6 linked regions of the Homo sapiens genome follow. The protein of the gene in region 5 purifies or fractionates together with the protein of the main gene of each other region. This does not show direct contact. Each region holds a gene or a part of one and is shown on either strand. Other genes may lie near its edges. The genes, in order: MAGEB10, PTPN5, WDR4, TLE4, UBP1 and GRHL1.

Evidence for each region.
Region 1: the proteins of UBP1 (region 5) and MAGEB10 purify together in Homo sapiens (affinity purification with mass spectrometry; one large-scale study listed by BioGRID and IntAct). This does not show direct contact.
Region 2: the proteins of UBP1 (region 5) and PTPN5 purify together in Homo sapiens (affinity purification with mass spectrometry; one large-scale study listed by BioGRID and IntAct). This does not show direct contact.
Region 3: the proteins of UBP1 (region 5) and WDR4 fractionate together in Homo sapiens (co-fractionation; one large-scale study listed by BioGRID). This does not show direct contact.
Region 4: the proteins of UBP1 (region 5) and TLE4 purify together in Homo sapiens (affinity purification with mass spectrometry; one large-scale study listed by BioGRID and IntAct). This does not show direct contact.
Region 6: the proteins of UBP1 (region 5) and GRHL1 purify together in Homo sapiens (co-immunoprecipitation; one large-scale study listed by IntAct). This does not show direct contact.

The regions. Positions count from the first base shown.
Region 1 is NC_000023.11:27,814,490-27,817,989, forward strand, and holds part of MAGEB10 (melanoma-associated antigen B10), read left to right. Parts: intron 1-3,064; 5' UTR 3,065-3,213; intron 3,214-3,500.
Region 2 is NC_000011.10:18,730,114-18,732,798, forward strand, and holds part of PTPN5 (tyrosine-protein phosphatase non-receptor type 5), read right to left. Parts: intron 2,590-2,685; coding exon 2,479-2,589; intron 1-2,478. UniProt on the Homo sapiens protein: May regulate the activity of several effector molecules involved in synaptic plasticity and neuronal cell survival, including MAPKs, Src family kinases and NMDA receptors.
Region 3 is NC_000021.9:42,848,726-42,852,132, forward strand, and holds the end of WDR4 (tRNA (guanine-N(7)-)-methyltransferase non-catalytic subunit WDR4), read right to left. Parts: intron 1,518-3,407; coding exon 1,324-1,517; 3' UTR 501-1,323; downstream 1-500. UniProt on the Homo sapiens protein: Non-catalytic component of the METTL1-WDR4 methyltransferase complex required for the formation of N(7)-methylguanine in a subset of RNA species, such as tRNAs, mRNAs and microRNAs (miRNAs).
Region 4 is NC_000009.12:79,724,674-79,727,382, reverse strand, and holds the end of TLE4 (transducin-like enhancer protein 4), read right to left. Parts: intron 2,347-2,709; coding exon 2,239-2,346; 3' UTR 501-2,238; downstream 1-500. UniProt on the Homo sapiens protein: Transcriptional corepressor that binds to a number of transcription factors. Inhibits the transcriptional activation mediated by PAX5, and by CTNNB1 and TCF family members in Wnt signaling.
Region 5 is NC_000003.12:33,388,406-33,391,905, forward strand, and holds part of UBP1 (upstream-binding protein 1), read right to left. Parts: intron 1,964-3,500; coding exon 1,926-1,963; 3' UTR 1-1,925. UniProt on the Homo sapiens protein: Functions as a transcriptional activator in a promoter context-dependent manner. Modulates the placental expression of CYP11A1. Involved in regulation of the alpha-globin gene in erythroid cells.
Region 6 is NC_000002.12:9,999,735-10,002,777, reverse strand, and holds the end of GRHL1 (grainyhead-like protein 1 homolog), read right to left. Parts: intron 2,186-3,043; coding exon 2,071-2,185; 3' UTR 501-2,070; downstream 1-500. UniProt on the Homo sapiens protein: Transcription factor involved in epithelial development. Binds directly to the consensus DNA sequence 5'-AACCGGTT-3'.

The sequences.
Region 1 (3,500 bases), on a different chromosome or scaffold from region 5:
CTAAGCGGCATTTTTGGTTGATTTGTGTGCTGTATCATAGAGTGCTGCATATTTTCGGACATCTCTTGCTTTAAAAACAATCACAGAGATTTCAATAGGGCCTGGGGTCAAACTAATAATAGTAACAAACGCTAGTTATTAAATATGCAATAAATAATAGGCACTTTTCCCAGAGTTTTCATACATTACATACAACCCAGAAATCCTACAAGGCAAGGCTTATCAAGGTCACTTCACAAAAAGCCTGAGCCTCATAGAGCTTTGCAATTTTCCTGACTTCACGTGGTTCATTAAGTGTCAAAATTAGAACCATAGTCTGAATTTGTTTAGAACCCACACTGTTGCACTCCTTCCTGCATGAAGCACATGTCTGTCTTTTAATTCATTTCTCTTCTCACTACTGCACTGTGTCTCTAGGCAATAAAAAGAAGGAACCTGGGGCCAGTGTACTAAATCCAGATGTAATAAATAATGGAGAAAATGAGAATTGAACACCATTTGGGGACTGCCCGTGGGCCTCATTTTCGTAGGGTCCATCCACCCCTAGCTCCAGGGTTCTTTGGGAGCTGATTTTGCCCAGGTGCTGGCACCTGGGACCAGATCCAGCACTTCCCAAATTACACTGTTCTTTCCTTGAGTCAGCCCCTGTGAGTCCTTGTGCCCAAATCTGGATCCTTACCTGCTGTCCAGCTCTTCCCTGCTTCCTTCCATGAAGGCTGCACCCTGCTCCCTATGGGAAAGAAAGCCCAGAATAACTTTCCTTCCTTTCTCCTGACTTAGAGCTTTCCAACTCCCTGCAGATGTCCTCTGTTTTGTCACATCACTCACTTGGAACTTCTCTGATAACAGCCCCTTCCATGTAATTGTTTACTTTGGCAGTGAACACTACATACCTGCTCATCTGCTCTGAGTAATTCCACCACACTCAAGATTTTTTCCAAGTCTGCCTGTGAGTCAGGTCAGACTTGGAACAGAATCTAACCTTGAAAGATAACTCTGAAGTTAGAGAGGAGGTGTAGAAAGCAGATGAAGTTAGAAAGAGAGGAGAATGTAATCTGGTGACTTATTTGAGACTAGCACTGAATCCATACACTAGTGAGCTTAAGTGAATGGTGAAAATATCGAAGCCTCTGTCTCAAGTGGTGGATAAGGAAGGACCTAGGAAATAACTGTGTATCAACCATGTCCAGAAATTGGATTCCTATAAATCCTGGTGTACTAGGAGCATGTAGTAGATTTCTATGCTGACATAACAAATGCCATACAGTAAGACACTTAAAATAACATATTGATTAGATCACCCTTCTGTAGGTGAGAAGTATGGGTTGGTTCTGCTGGTTTCTTTGCTTAGGGTTACACAGGCCCAAATCAAGCTGTCAAAGCCTGGCTTCTTATTGGGACACACTGTGAAGAATCCCATTTCAGGCTTATTCAGGTCATTATATGAGGAACCCAGTTCTTTGTGGTTGTAAGAAGAGTGAGGAGTAAGTCTCCTTTCAGGCTATCAGTTGGAGCTGCCATATTTTCTCCAGGCCTGTGTCCAGTCTTTGCATGTGGGCCTCTACTTTTGAGTCAGACTTGGGACATTGAACCTGTCTCACGCTTGGAATTTCTCTAACTTCTGTCTCTGCTGCATATCTCTTCTGCCTCCAGGTGGAGAAACTTCTCTGCTTGTAAGGGCTCATCTAATTAGATTTGGCCCATGTAGGCAATCCAGTGTAATCTCTCTATTTTCAGGTCGGTTTCATAATTTTAATTATATTTGCAAAGTGCCTTTGGCCATGTAACATAACATATTCATGGGTTTCAGGAATGAGGATATGTGAATCTTCGTGGAGCAATTATTCAGTCTACCACAGAGGTAGAATATGTCTCTCTGGCAGACATGCCAGCTTTGATAAGAAAAGAAAAACCATAATTCGCCATCATTCTCCTGATTCTTGTCTGTATCTGCGCCAAGGGAAAATCCTGGTTTTTCATTGCGCCTAAGGGCACCTGTACATGTGCTCAGGTGTACATGTTCATCAGGTGGTGGGTAGCAGGACTCACAAGTTACGTTTTTAACAATACATCAAAAGAAGGAAGAAATTTTTCAGTCTCTTGAGATTATAGAGGTCATTGAAAAGGTCAGTGCAGAAAGGTGTTATTGAGTGCAGCGGGGTGAACCCTCCTTGCTGAGATTTACAGGATCGTTTTGAAAATTAGTGTGATTCTGGATTTGAAATTACCTGTCACATATAGACACTAGAAAATGTTGTTGTTTAGCAAAGATATTTGATATTCTCAGAAACTCCTCCAAGACTTAAGAAGGGTGTTTTCATAACAAATTTATAGTAGTAGCTTTTATTGAGCTTTTACTATTATAATAGTTAATTGGACAGACTGCAAGTGCTCATCCACTTTGTGTCTTGCTTTCTATCCTTGGTTCATATGGAGACTACATTGCCAGTCCACTTGTAGTTTGGAAAGGTCATGTGACTACCCCCCTTGACACTGAAATATGAACAGTAGCATGCTTTTCCCTTTCAGATCAAAGTGTTTGAGAGCCAGTCTGCCACCTCCATGCCTTCTCTTCCATGCTGAGATATGGAGCCACAGTATAGAAGCAGCATGGATCCCTGGGACACCTGACAGCAAAAAATCCCTATTAATTAATATCAAAGTTTATTTGCATAAGAGATAAACCTTTAGTGTGTTAAGCCATTGAGATTTCAGCCTTTTGCCATTACATCTCATACATACTTTATCTGTACAATACACAACTACTAATTCCATTGTTATTATTATTTAAATATTTTAATTACCAAGAAAATAGTGTATGTATTCTTGTTGCCAAAAATTCTAATACAGATAAATCAAAATTTCGCTTCCTTACTATGTCCCTCCAAAATTCAATACCTCCTCATATGTAACCACATTTTTTAAATCCTGCATGTAGTATTTTTAAATGTATTATAGGCTTTCTCTTATATACATGTGCAACAAAAATACACTGTGAGGGTTTTTTTGCTTTTGTTTGCTCCTTTTTCTTCTTAATTTTTATTTACTTATTTATTTCTTTTAGAGACGGTGCCTCGCTCTGTTGCCCAGACTGGAGTGCAGTGGTGTGATCATAACTCAGTATAGCCTAGAACTCCTGAGCTCAAGCAATCCTCCCACCTCAGCCTTTCAAGCAGCTAGGAGTACAGTTGGGAGCCACTGTACCTGGTTACTGTGAGTTTTAAATATACATTGATAACTGTTTACATATTGCTCCACAATATGCCTTAGAATTTTGATATTTCAATAACACATTTCTCTTTACTTTGAGAAGAAAGGATTTACTCAGAATGACAAGGTTCCAGGAAATGTGCCTTAACAAGAAAACCTCAATTAGTGAAGGACATCAGGAAAACTGGGCACTGGAACAATTTCCAGAATCCACGAGAGAGATCATAAGCTAAACAAAGTCCAGAGAACTCAGGGCACGGGGTAGTCAGGGATCTGTATCCAGAGTTCAG
Region 2 (2,685 bases), on a different chromosome or scaffold from region 5:
TCTCCAGGGTTCCTTATCTTAACAAATGGTCCCCCAGTCATCCCTTTGTCACATAACCCAGCCCCGGGACTCTTCTTCGCCTCTTGCTGTGCCTCGCCTGCGCCTGCGTGACTCGCCTCTATCTTAGTGCTGCAATTAGTGCTGCAAGTTTTACCACCTCTTCACACTCCCCGCTTCACTGCCACCTTGACCTTTATCATTGCTCGAGTGTGGGAGATTTCTGCCTCATCCCCAACTGTCTCAGATCCACAGAGTCAAAATAGTCTGTGTACAACACACATCTGGACATGCTGCTCTCCTGCTGAAAACCTGTGGCTTTGGACTGAATGTGTGTGTCCCCTTAAGTTCACATGTTGAAACCAAATCCCAACATGGTGGTATTTGAAGGGAGGGCCTTTGCGAGGTGATGAAGTCATGAGAACGGAGCCCTCACGAATGGGATCAGTGCTCTTACAAAAGGAGCTTTCACTCCTTCTGCCACGTGAGGACATGACCCTGGAAGTGGGTCCTCACCAGGGTCACGGTGCCTTGATCTTGGACTTCCCAGTCTCCAGAACTGTGAAAAATAAACCTGTTGCTTACAAGCTACCTGGTCTATGGTATTTTGTTATAGCAGCCTGAGCAGACCACAACATCCTTCAATGTCTCTCACTGCTCTCAGAATAAGACCCACTCTCCTCAGTCCTTCACCTGGCTAGGAAGACAACTGCTACAGGGCCTGCCCTTCCAGACACACCTCCTGCCCCTGCGTACTTGTACTCAATGCTCCCACACTCCAAAAGGTTTGTAGGTAAAATCTCAGCAGCACACACAAACACATGTGCACACATACATGCACACAAGTGTTCCATCTTCCATGTCCTTACTTTTATTATTTTCTCACTGGGAATGTTCTCCTGACTTGTTTGCCCCTGGTCAACTCTTACTTATCCTTCAAGACCCCATTCAGCACCACCATGTACAGGAAGCCCTCCCTGAGCACATCAGCTGGCAGAGTGTCCTTCTTTTATACATATATATATACACACACACCTATATATATATTTATATTTTATATATATTTTATATATTATATATTTATATTATATATATTTTATATATAGGTATAATAGGATATGTATATCATATATACATACATATATGATATACATATCCTATATTCATCCAATATAACATCATATGATATACATATCCTATATTCTATATACCTATCTCTAGCTCAGTACTTACCATCTTATACAATGCTTCTCAAGGAAAGAGTCCAAGCTTTGGGAAGCTCTGTGTTCACAGTATCCAACCCAGAACCAAGCTCAGGCCAGGTGCTCGTAATGTCTTATGGACAAAAGTAAATTCCCTCAAACTCCAAGATGCCCTGGTTCTTCCCTCATCATCTCCATGGCATTGAGAAGGTGAGCAGCCCTGCCTCATCTCAGCCTGTCTTTCTGGGGAATTTCTACTCAGGAAGCCATTTTCTCAAGTCCTGAGTTACCTGGCTGTGACAGTGACCACTACTTCTGCTTTTCACTTCCTGGCCCTTCATGCCCTCCAACAAGACCTGGATCTTAGAGCTGCTTGTGGGGGCACTGCTCTTGGGGGCTGAGATGCTCTCGACACCCTACCTGGCCCCTATTCAGTGGGAGAGGGAACAGCTCAGAGGGCCAAGTCTCCGGTCTTGTGCTCAGTAACCCCTGTGGCTGTCAGCATCAATGAACTTCCTTGGCTGCTCCTGGATAGGGCATCAGCTTCCTGATGCCTGGTTCACCTCTTCCAGCCTTTGGGGTTATTACAATTACAGCCTTCCCTAAACATGGGTCTTATTTCTCACAAACAGAATCCACTAATCCCGATTTCAAAGGAACAGTCTCCTCTATTATGCTGATCCTGGAGGAAGCACAACTTCAGGGTGGGAGGATACCTTCTCCCACTCTTCTGGGCTGTTTTGTATTGCTCATATTTTGTGTGTCTTCCTTTTTCTTGCTGTTTTCTGTAACCACAGCCCCCTGTACAACCCCAAAGCAGCAAAGAGTGCCTGCCCTCTTGTGGACAGATTGGGCACTACAGGCCAGAAGCCCAGGATCCCAGGTGAAGAGATGTTTCTAAGGAGGATCTCAAAGTCATGATGAACCCTCAATTATAAGCACAGTGCTGGAGGCTGCTGAAGTCCCCTCATCCAGACAGTCCTGGCCTTGGGTACATTTGAAGCATAGCTAGAATGCATTATGAATGACAGAGTAGAGAGACAGAGAGAGCCCAACAGCATGAAATGTAACTGAGGACTGGGAAATGCAAGGGGTTTGATTCTACCTCTGGCTCCCAAGTCCATTCACCTCTCACTCATCCGTAATTATCAGAAAATCTGGGAGTGACACTGGCTTTTATGTCAGTTACAGTGGACTTGGGGGACCTGTTCTCTGTGGAGCCCCCAGTTAAGCCCCTACACTCATCCTCAGCTTCACCCAGCCCTGCCCCAGGCCTCACCTTGAGGGAGATGAGTCGCAGCCGGTAATCCTCCGTGTGAATGACTTTCTGCACAGTGATCTCAACACCGTCGTACGCCACCTGCTCCTCCGGCCAATACTCGGTGCATTTCTGCAGGGGCCCAGATCAGGCTGCCATACAATCCTGTTCCCTTCCCACAACTCTCTACACTCTCTTCAGGGCCAGCGGAGAGATACACAAGGGCAA
Region 3 (3,407 bases), on a different chromosome or scaffold from region 5:
ATCACACGGCGCGCACCTCACACAGCACACGATCACGCGGCGCGCACCTCACACAGCACACGATCACGCGGCGCGCACCTCACACAGCACACGATCACGCGGCGCGCACCTCACTCACAGCACACGATCACACCGCGCACCTCACACACACAGCGCACGATCACGCGGCGCACACCTCACACAGCACACGATCACGCGGCGCGCACCTCACACAGCACACGATCACGCGGCGCGCACCTCACTCACAGCACACGATCACGCAGCGTGCACCTCACACACAGCGCACGATCACACCGCGCACCTCACACACACAGCGCACGATCACGCGGCGTGCACCACACACACAGCGCACGATCACACCACGCACCTCACACACACACACAGCGCACGATCACGCGGCGCGCACCTCACACAGCACACGATCACGCAGCGTGCACCTCACACACACACAGCGCACAATCACACCGCGCACCTCACACACACACAGCGCAGGCACCAAGGAGTTTTGCCTGGTATATTCGGTTGCTGCTAAACATTCCTAGGAAGTTGAGAAGGTTCATCCTTGCTGATCGGTGATTGAAATTCAGCAACATCCCTGTGGCTCTGCAGTGTGTGCCAAGGTCAAATCAAATCATAACGACGTCCTCAATCACCTCCCTGTAAACCGGGTGCCAGCCAGGCCCGTGCTCACACTTCCTGAAACAAGTTCACCATCTGTGCCACCGATGCCAGACAGAGCTCCCTGCGACTCCGAAACGTGTTTCTCACTTCCCACAAGGGAGCCACTCTCCAGGAGCAGCTCCTGAGCACAAGGGCTACGGCTGGGGCTGGGGCAGGCTCAAGCATTCGTGCTGAGTTTCAACAGCCTGTGTGGCGAGCAGCTACTGCGGGACAGCACGTCACCTGGATGCTGAGACGGCGGAACAACATGAAAACATCCACCATGCCAGAAACGTCAGCCCACAGATGCTCCTAGAGGAAGATGCAGCGGACACGAAGGGCGGTATGAGAACAGGAGAAACACAGACAGCTGCCGCCACCACCGGCTCACACGCAGCCTCCGACATGAAAAGAAAGTGCTTCAAGAGCTTCCACTCCACTGGTCTGGCTTCCCTTCAACCAGAAAGGGGGCACAGGCACCCAGCAAGAGCCTGTGCTGGTGACACAGAATGTTCTTTCTAGAGCCCAGGGGACAGCCCCATCCTCTGAGCTGGTCACAACTGATGTCACCTTTTCCTTCTTGAAGGGACATGCCAGGATGCAGGGGAACAAGTTAAAAAGCTTTTCCTAATTTGAGGTGAGAGACACCACTGACCGCCACGATCAGCAACTTAGCGTCGCCTCCCCCGGTCTCATCTTCTTGGCATGCCCGTCGGGCCCAGGCGGGGGACTCCGGCGCCGCTGCTTCTTCTCTAGCTGCTGCTGCAGTCTCTCCTCTTTCTTCTTCAGGTAGGAGGTCACGTTGTCGAACGTGGCCTTGTAGAGACTGCTGAAGCTGGCGTCTGCGCCGGCAGAGCCTGTGATGGGGGAACAAGGACAGGTGCCAGGTGGGGCAGGAACATGGGACTCGGCCACCACAGCGGGCCCCCTGCAGCAGGGAGTTACCTCGTGACTCCCAGAGTCCTCGGTGGACCGTGGGGGGCGCCTTCTGGGACGGCTCCCCACGGTGCCCACCTCCTGGGACCCACACCCTGGCTGGACCTGAGGACTGGCTACTAACAGAACGGGGCAAAGATGAAAGAATGTAATGGAAACCAGGGCACCAAGGCTGGGCCTCCACCCCGCCAGCACTCTCTGCTTGCACGCCCGGAGAAAGCCACTACTGCACCATGAGCCGCCCTGTGGAGGGGCCCAGGTGGCAGGGGACCAGGAGCAGCAGCCTCTGGCCAACAGCCAGAGAGGCCCCCTGTCCTGCCGACAACCCAGACTGAGTGAAGTCGGGCCCTGCCTGGTGAAGCTGAGATGGCCACCTGCAGAGACACAGCTCAGCTGAGTCCGGACCCCTGACCCACAGCAACAGTGAGACAGTAAGGGTGGGGTGCCTTAAGGCATCGAGTGTGGGATAGCATGTTCTGCCGCCACAGGGAATGGACACGGATTTCATCTACTTTATCTAAGTGCCAAGGATTGGGGGCAATGACTGACCACAGGCACACGGAGACAGCCTCAGCCTGGCCAGGAAACCACAGGCCCAGCCGGTAACCCGCGCACCAGCGACTGCCTGAAGCCTGCCCATCCAGCAGGTGGCGCAGCCTCCCCGCCCCTCCAGCGACTCTGCTGCTTGTGGGACACTCTAGCAGCAGCCCTCCCCGGTCCCTCTCCCAACGCAGGCCCCCAAGTCTGCGCCGGGAACAGGCTGCTCTATCTATGGAACATCTCAGGAGAGCGAGCCCAGGCTTTGGCCTGAGACTGTTGTGCAAGGTGACACTCAACAGGTCTATGCTGTCCGTGGCCTAGAGCACGGGGGCCATGAGCACTGCAGATGCCCGGCCATGAGCACTGCCGCCTGCAGTCCCTGACACAGCCAGTGACAGGCCCACTCTGAAGTGTTCCTAAAGCAGATCCCAACCACGCTGGGGGGCCCAACCCTGCCCGTCTCAACCCTCAACATCCTAAGCAAAGCAGGAGGGAGAGAAGCCTCAGAGGCAGAGCCAGCGTGCCGCCACTCGGGGAGCCTGGCAGAAGGCGGCTGGGCCCCAATCAGCGGAAACTCCTCCGACCTCAGTGTGAATCCCTCCAGAGCTCCAAGGAACCTCAGTGCTCACTGCAGTGGGGTTTAGCTTTGCAAGACTTCAGAGCAGCAACTTCTTGTCGTGAATGAGGCACCTGGATTCCATGCTGGGCTAATCCATCCTGCAGACACCATCACCTCCAAGACTGCAAGGTGCTGGCACAACGACGCACCCAGAACTACAGTGTGTCGTGTCCCCAGAAGGCAGGGTAGAAAATGTTCGTCCAGCTCCTCCCTCAGCCTGGCTGCTCTCCTTCCTGCAGCCGCAGCCACGGGAGTTGCTGGCTAGATTCCCTCCCCTCAGCTGAGTGTTCCTGTCAGGACAGTGACCATCCTGCCCCTGCTCAGCCTCCTGAAGACCCCCGGGGCCTCTGGCTAGACCCCCACTAAACCTCCCAGTGAGGCCCTGCACTTACTGACGCCCACTGCAGTGGGATCAATTCCCTCAACACCATGGACCAGGCATGAGGCAGCACAGCACCAGCTCCCTCTGGGAGCCACCAGCTGCCAGCCCTGCCCTGGGGACCTTCAACGCCCAACTCTGAAGGCAGGTGCTCAGACCCTGAGCCCCCGGTTCCTAAGTGGCTCTCGTTAGCCTGACTCCCATGGGGGGCTCCTTCTTCTGCTGTGCGTCACCCACCTCCTGCCCTGCCCCGCCTTCTGGATGGGGACACAC
Region 4 (2,709 bases), on a different chromosome or scaffold from region 5:
TAAACTCCTCTTTATACTGAATCTTCATACACCCAACCAGTAGCAGCCCAAGAAGCCTGGTGTAAAGACCTCAGTGTGTTATGCTAGAAATGCTTCCCAAATCCACATGGCTGGCAATGGTTTACATTGGCTAACTTAAAGCCCGTGTTGATGTGTCTAGTCCAATACGGTAGCCATTAGCCACATGTGGCTACTTGACACTTGAAATGTAGTTTGTGTGACTGGTAAATTAGATTTCTAGTTTTATTTAACTTTAATAAATTTAAAGAGCCACAAATGCCTAGGGTAACCATATTGAACAGCATAGCTCTAAAGCATCAAGGGTTTGAGGGACATGATAACCTTTTGGTAAGCAGTATTTTTATAAATCAAAGAGGTACTCAATAAATATTTAGCACCAACTGGTCACTGTTAACTTCTATCACCTACCTTTTCTAGCTCCTCTCAAGTAAAGACAAAACCAAAACAAAAACAGCAACAGTGAAAAAAACCCACATTACTTTAACAACAAAAAAAACCACTTTACTTTAACAACAATCTCCCTTGAAAAAACTAGGCATTTTTAATATATAGGAGTGGCACAGCCAAAGATAAAAAATAAACTAATGTCATCAAGACAAAGAATTAGAAAAATAAGCATACTAGAAGTTATTTATGTTTAATGCTTAAAAGTCTGAATTCACAAACAATCTACCATTATAGAAGTACTGGTGGTCAATACAATGCATTAGAACTATGTACAACGCACAGTTTAGTATCAAAATCTTTCTACACTGTAGAGTTTTACGAAACTGTTAATGACATCAAACACTAAGCACTTAAGACACCATTTTTTTTTTTCTGCTACCACATTAGGAACGTCAATGGACAGTCCATTTCAACTTGCAGCATCCATCCATTTCTAGTATGAAATTAAGTAATTTTCTACTTATACAATAAAGTATATCTACACGGTTCTTTTGATTTTGATCCATAGCAGCAAAGGCACTGTACATCAGCAGATCCACAGACTTAAAAGATTTTTAAAGCATTCAAACAAAAAATAATAAAAAAAGAAGTCACATATTATAGTTTAACAGCAACAACAACAACATAAAAGATAACACAATGTTTCTGGCACAATGGCACAGCCTGTGTCCATTTCAGGGACATCCAACTAAGACATGGAAAGAACCGGAGGTAAAGAAAGCAAGTCCTCATCCCAGGAGAGAGTCCATTCTTTGTGTTTTTCAGAGGGAGGTCTCTGCAAACCCTCCTCTGCTGTCCTTGTTTTGTAAAAGACTTAACTTGCACAGCAGTGGGAGTCCTCCCCATAACTGTGCAGCTCCCAAAGAGCATGCCACAAAATAACCCATAATTTCTCATAACAACAAAACTGACTAAAGATATATATATCTCCTTTTGCAAAGAAATGTGGCAAAAATATCCAGAAGGGAGTAAGTTCTCTCTTTGAGGCCAAATTTAATTTGTTCATCTGCCTATAATACAACAAAAAAAGGGAACTAAAAACATATTACAAAGACACTTGTCAACGAGTCAAAAAAAGAAAAAAAGTCCAATTACTTTTATCGAATATAATCTAAAGCTATAGATATATTGGTTAACGTTGTCTAAATAGATCCAAATGAGTATGAGTTGGCCTGTTGTGTTCTAATTGTTCAGCCAAATTTCCAAAAGTCTTTAAAAGATGTAGAAAACAAAAACAAAAAAAACCTAATAACAACACAGCAACATATTGCTTCCATGTGTAATTATACATTTCACATCTCTATACAGTCATCAGTCTACACTTAGTGACATTTTAAATCAATTATTTTAAACCTTCCTTTCCCCTCCTTTGCCAAAAAAAGGGGGGGAGGGGTATCAAATACAACGCACCTTCATTATCAATGCAGGAGCAGACAGCTTTATTTAGTCAGTCATTGTTAGAAAGCCTTCTTTAAACAAAATAAATATATTACAGATATAATACATAATTAAAGATTCTTTTCACTGTTAAGTATGCTTATTCCATGTTCTTCCAAGTAGACAGCTGAAGATTTGGTATCACAGGTTTTTAATGACTATTCACAATTCAATAGCAAGTGGGAAGTGAGGTTAAGAAAGGGGATTAAACTCCACAACTGCAATGAGTATCTGAAATCCTTGGTTTTAGATGCGGGGATGGGGGTGAACAAAAAGGATGACAGAGCAAAGTGCTACCAGGAGGAGAAGTCCAGTCTGCATGAAGATTTGTCTTTAATAAATAACTTCATAAACTGTGGCCTTCTTATCCCCAGAGCCAGTGACAATGTATTTGTCGTCCACGGAGATGTCACAGCTAAGCACCGATGAGGATTCTTTGGACTAGGAAAGAAACATATAATCAAAAATGTTAAATACTGAAAGAAAATCCCATGAGTATGGAGGACTTAGAGCAAATGCAAATGTAATGTGCTCCTTGACCAAACAGAAAGCCCAGTCAAGGAAAGGTGAAAGGTGGTCATGGACAGTACTGCTGCTTTTTTTTTTTTTTTTTTTTTTTTTTTTTTTTAATAAGACAGGGTCTCCCTCAGTCACTCAGGCTGCAGTGCAGTGGTGTGACCATGGCTCACTGTAGCCTCGACCTTCTGAGCTCAAGCAATCCTTCCACCTCAGTCTCCTGAGATGCTGGGACTACGACACTGATGTGTCCAATCACACCTAATTTTCAAACTTTTTTTGTAGAGA
Region 5 (3,500 bases):
CAAATTTGCTGGTGCCAAAATTTATTTAGCCTGTTTCACTGGGACAAACTCACGTTCAATGCCACTCAGTATAATTTCAAGTCTGATAAGCATCTAAGTATTTTTACCCCGCTTCTAAAACCTGATGAGGAATTCAAAATAAGCACACAGCATTAAATGACATTTATTGTTCCATAAATCTTGAGACCCAAAAAGGAATGCTAAATAGACAAGCAAAACTTTTAAAACAAACGAGATAAACTCACTTCTTTCCCCAGTGACTGGTACAGAAAACATGTGGTCACACGAAAGCAAAGGGAAAAAGTCAGAAAGGAAAACTCTCTGCCTATAGGATCTATAGGAGTTACAGATATTTTCAAATCGATGATGAAAATAGATCGTGCTTCTTTGTAGCAAATAATTAACCCCCTTTATGAATAAAACATAAAATGTCAAAGCTTTTACTCACTGAAGTAGTTTGTCTTCTGGGAGAGATTTCAAACTCAAAATTACTCATTTCCTATTTTTTGCCTGAACACAATGAGGATCAAATAGTACATTCAAATCAGGACACCTGGGTATATGGACAAAGATATCCTACAATTAAAATGGAATAGAAGTTAAAAAAAAAATTCAGTCCCCTACACCACAGGCCTCAAACATGCTTGCTGATGGATTCTGGGAAGGTTTTGGATGAAGGACGGAGATATGGGAGGAAAGTGAGAAAACAGTGGATTCCCTTTGAAAAGTATGCTAGCAGACAAGCATTTGGTTTTATGAAAGAGGCACTCTTATAGAGAAAGAAGCTAGTATGTGGTGTATAAAAAGCCCCTAAATCATCACCAGAATGTCTATCCATGATTGTACTAAAGCTCAATATTTGAGAGGCTTAAGGGATTTGTATGGTACATTTTAGTGTTTGATTGATAACATCTAGTGTTTCCAGAAAAAAATTCATCTTGTTCATAATGAAGATCCCTTAACACCTAGTCAGAAGCTATCAACAATAATACTTTCTCCCCCTACTTGGGTCACCTATTTCCAATGTCTGGGGTAGGGCTTTAAAAATGTTTAATAGGATGGTGGGGGTGGGGGGTTAGGGTGGGGGTGGTCAGAGATGGAGGGAGAGAGGGAAGAAAATGAGAGAAAAACCACGAGTTTAAAAGGCAAGGAATCTCCAAAAATGAAAACCAGAAACTAAAATGCTAAAAATGGAAGCAGAAGCAAAAAAGTTTTTCAATAAATCTGTGACAAAGCCAAAACACAAAAGTCTTTGTACCTATTAGGATTTACACTGATCCTCTCACCAAGGTACTCCTGATAATGCAGTTTGCTTCAAGCCCATCTTCCTGGCTTGGATCTTCTCCAATCTGGCATGATCATATCAAACGTACACCCTCAGACATGATTTCTTCCAAGAAGGTGCCGAGCCTCTTACCTGACCACCAACGGCCACATCAGCACAACACAACTCTCCGCATACAGATTCACTGCTGGCCCCACAACAGCACTGTCCCCCATCTCCTCTCCAGGTCAGCATAAGGTTCAGGCAATAAAAGCCAAACTGGCACAGAAAGGTAAATGCCCACAGTAAGTTTCTACATTCATTTCCAAACCGCATACAGTGTAAAAAGACAGCAAAGGCTGCTTCTAGGAACTGTATTTACTGGCCTCTGCCAGAGCAGCAGGCAGCTATGCCTGCACCGTGGCCTCCAGAGCTGGATGCATGCTGTGCCGATGTGCTCACTCTCATGAGGATGCTTGGCTATGGCAGTGACAGTGAGGAGATTCACCTCTCATACAGCTCATTAGAAAGGTCATCTTGTGTTTTCAATATGAAACATTTCATATGGTAAAATCCAATCCCAAGACTTCTTGGATTCAGTCTTCACACACTTTTAAGCGTGACTATTTGGTACTGAATACAGTTCAGTCTATATAAGACATCACTTCAAAATTATGTGGATGCCATCACTACTTTCAGCTGCAGAAAAAGGAAAGACAGTATTTCTTCAGTCAGGCTTAGGAAATTAAGCCTATTAAATGGAAAACTCCCTGCCAACTACAACCTCCCTTCCCAATTCAGAGGTTACCTTTAAATGATTCTAGAGAAACAAGCAGATTAACTTGCTCTAGCTCCTCTTCCCCCAAAAAACTTCATGTACACATTCCCTTTTTAGACATTCTGCGAAGCCTGGCCCACTATCAACGCCCGCATTCCAACACTGTCTGCCAGTTCTGGGGGTAGGGGGACATCTATCAAGACACACAATAATAGTGCTGTCCATAAGGGGAGCAAGAGCTAGAAGGAGAACAGGTGAAATATACTGTGTCAGGGCAGAGGACCTGAGGGAGTAAATGCAAATGTGTACATCTACCTTTTCCAGAAAAATTTCTGAGCTACTCACAGAGATTTCAAACATTTTAAAACTGTATCATTCCTTTTGCCTAGTGTTTCTCAGTAAATAGTGAGAAGCAATATAGGCATTCATAAAAAAATGATTTTTCTCATGACGACAAAGTTTAAAAAAAAAAACAAAACAGTAAATTGAGATTAGAGGGGAGATCCTATGATTTCTAATACCAAAAAATGTCTGCTGGTTTCACAAAACAAAACTATGCAATTATAGTATATGTCTTCTTTTTCAGACAATGTCAGTTATGCAAGGTAAAAACTGTACTGCTGTGAAAACAAAAGACTGAGCAGAAGGGTACTAGGCTAAAGATGTTTCTGAAAGAGTGAACCAGTTCAGAGTTAAAACTCAGCCTTGCAGGTAACCTGATGGCATACGCAACATGTGAGGCGCAAAATAAAATCAGTATTTCAGTAGTCTGGGGACACCTGACACACATGACATCTCCCTCTTCTAGGGGCAGCTTTTGTGCTAAGACCGGATTTGGATCTTAGCTCACCTGACTTTTAAAACAGTCTATGAATGTATGATCTCTTCTCAAATAATTTTACATTTAGGAATCCCTCCTCTTTAATGTTGGAGCCACCTAAGCCTGGTCCTGGCTCTTTTCATATTCTCTCCCTAAATGACCTTAACAACTTCTACAGCTTTGAGTCACTGCTGATATGCTGAAGGTTTCCAAATTTACATCTCAAGCCCAGGCCTCTTCTCTGAGCCCCAGACTGGTAATAGTCAACTGCCTACTTGACATTTCTACATATCCAAAATCAAACTCTTGGTTGATTTACCCCAACCATACTTACCTCTTCAATGAGATCACCATCTGCCCAGTTACTTTCCACAGAAAATAAGGTGTCAGAACTATTCCTCCCTCAAAAGTGGAGCCCACTGGGACCCTGTCTATAAACGTGTAAGATACCATCACCTTTCACCTGGATATCTCCTGCCTCGTTTTGCCACCTTCTCATCTGTCTCCACAGAGTTGTGAAAGTGAAAGAAAAATCTAGTCACATTACTACTCCTTTGTTTAAACAACTTCAGTGACAACCCAATGCATTTCAAGTAAATCCGAACTACCATCATCATCCGGTCCCCGCATGCCAGACC
Region 6 (3,043 bases), on a different chromosome or scaffold from region 5:
TCTCCACTTTGGCCCGAGGGTTACTGTGAAAAGTGCAGATGTCCCAGGAGCCCTATCAGGGAGTTTACGTCATTAATCTGATCTTGTATCCATTAAAAATATATCCTAGTGTCTATCATATTTAGGCCCTGGATTACCCTGGAATATGTTCAGGACGCCTGTTTTAGAGATTCTAATGATTTAAATATTGGTAAATTTTTAAACTAAGTATTTTCTGTTAGGCTTTTAAACACTAAGAATACTAAGATTTTAGGTATGAAAGCATTTACCTTCAGCTTTAGTGGTTAAATTTTGGTAAGAATTGGAAAATCATTCAGGGATCCCTGACTTAACAATTACGTGGATCATTTCAGGCATCAGTAAGGAAAAGTTAACATGAAGAAAACAACCTAAGCGCACACATTAAGAAATAAGCAGAAAGTGCTAGCAATGAGATGCTTTTCAGCTCTCACGTTTTACTGAGCAGTGCAAAGTCAAATTGAAAAACAGGAAATGACATATTACGAAATAGACATATAAAATTTAATTCCTTTGGTTTAAAATACATCTTCAATGATACAATTAAAAATAACACGCAAGACAAAATCAACTTCATAAAAAATACAAAAGTTATATGACCCATATCCCATATCTTATCTTAGAAAACCAGCAATTTAGTTCCCATACTTCATTAGAATACTTTAACCTAAGACTGTAACTACCAGTCCATTTACACGAATGACCTAGTCTAGTTCCCTGAACCTAAAGATACCCGTGACTTTGTTATAAAATTACATATTTTAGTATTTTTATATACTTAAATGTGTACAAAATGTTCCCCTGCCATAGTAACATATTTTTGTGAATTCATGAATGTTTTCTAGAATTGTTAACATACAAGATAATCAAAGCACGAAGGCTCTGATGCGTGATAAAATAATCATTTCTCAAAACAGGAAGATGAGAACTGCATTTCGAGTTGTATCACTTGGTACGCAATACTTGCAATCTGTGTGCTGTAATTACAGTGTTTCTTCACTCTAAGTGCATCTGACTGATACTAGCATAACAAAAGACGTGATTGCAGTAGTGTTTTTCTTTTACTTCATTTGTTAAACAGTGCAGAAATCCAAATAACAACATTCTCAACAGCAAACAGAATCTCTGTCATTTGAGAAGGTTTTGCTATGCTACAGAATGCCTGTGTTTGGAAAAACAGAGAAAAAGGTTTTTAGCGGGTTCCACTAAGCACAGTATTCTATCTGCTTGGTATACACGATCAAAAAATAACTTAACCTTTGTCTAGGGAAAGTCTTTAAGGTAGCTCTTACTGCATATCTTCACTATATGTACACAGACACCATATTTATATATTATATATTTATATAAGACATGTATGTACACATTTACAGACCTTCAAAAATATATTGCACTTATATACAATGCAGCTTTATCTTAACTGATTTCATACTGTAACCCATTAAAATTCTTCATGAGAAAGGCAGTTGATATGTCCGAGAAAGTCGCAAAGGAAGATTTCAGTAACATGCCCTGTTTAGTAAACATCTGGTGGAGAGTGAGAGGGTAAGGGAGAGAGGGCTCCCCCCGTACTCTTCAGGTGCGCTCCCGCTAACGTGAGGCAGTGGAGTTGTACTGAATTCAGGCAAGGGCACGAAATCCTTAAAGCCAAGCCTATCGCCTTTTCTGACTTCTGCTAGCGAGCAGGCCCACGACACTGTAGGCACAAGGCAGAGATCCCAATATTTTGATAAATAACGTAGCAGATGTCCTAAAGCTTCCCAGAGACTCTGTTAACTCTTGGAATAAAGTTTTCACTTTAAATCCTGTATATATCAGGAAATTCAAACATAATGGTATATGGATTTCTCTTTCATCTGAAAAACACCAATGCAATAGATTAAATGCTACCACCAAGCCAGATGCAGCCCCGCCTCCAACCTGCAAGGAACCCATTCCCTCGACATAGACCTGTGCTGGCGACATGGCTGACTGGGGTTACCTGCAGTTGCCAAACCGTAAGATCTAGAAACACCTGCACTGAACTCCTGGGGAGCTGTGGCCCGCAGGCCTTTAGATCTCCGTCAGGGTGAGCTTGTAAGACCCCCCGGCTTCTTCAATCTGCAGCTGGAAGGTGTCCTCATTGGAGTAATGCTTCACAATGTTGTCGTCCATGTTCACCAGGATCCTGGATGGGGGGGGACAAGACCAACCAACTTCACTGCCACTTGGTCCTGGAGTCAGACCTAGATTGACCTGTTAGCTCTCCCACTTACTAGTTGCAGCATGTGAGGCAAATTATTTAAATCTCCTTAAGCCTCAACTTCCTCATCTATAAAATGGGGATAATAATAGTACCCATCTTATAGGATTGCTGAGAGAATTGAGTTAGGAGGAAATCAGGTGATATATTTATATCATAGCATTTGGAAAATGAAATATACTGGCTTATTTATGATTATTATTTCCAGCATGTATTTCATAGTTGTCACTTGGTAAATGGTACTTGGCTCATACCTGTGATGCCAGCACTTTGGGACGCTGAGGCAGGAGAATCACTTGAGCCCAAGAGTTTGAGACCAGCCTGGATAACATAGCAAGATCCCATTTCTACAGAAAAATTTTAAAAACTAGCTGGACATGGTGGTACATGCCTGTAGTCCCTGCTACTTGGGAAGCTGAGGTGAAAGGATGGCCTGAGCCCAGGAGTTCAAGGCTACAGTGAGCTCTGATTGCACCACTGTACTCCAGCCTGGGCGATAGAGTGAAACCATCTCTAAATGAATAAAGCAAAAGCACATCAATAACACTAACTTACATGATGTGAAGTCACAGCCCCCTGACAAATTACACACTCCAGCAAGTGAGCCTCAAAGTTTAAATGAACTACTATTATCAAACAAAAAATAAAGAATACAAAAACAAGAAAATAAACAAAAATAAATTAACTACTATTAAGTCCAACTCTTTCCACTAGAACCATCTAGAAATTTCCCATTAGAATTTGTTTTAAAACTAAGCCAAAAAATTCTTATGCTAGCCACTG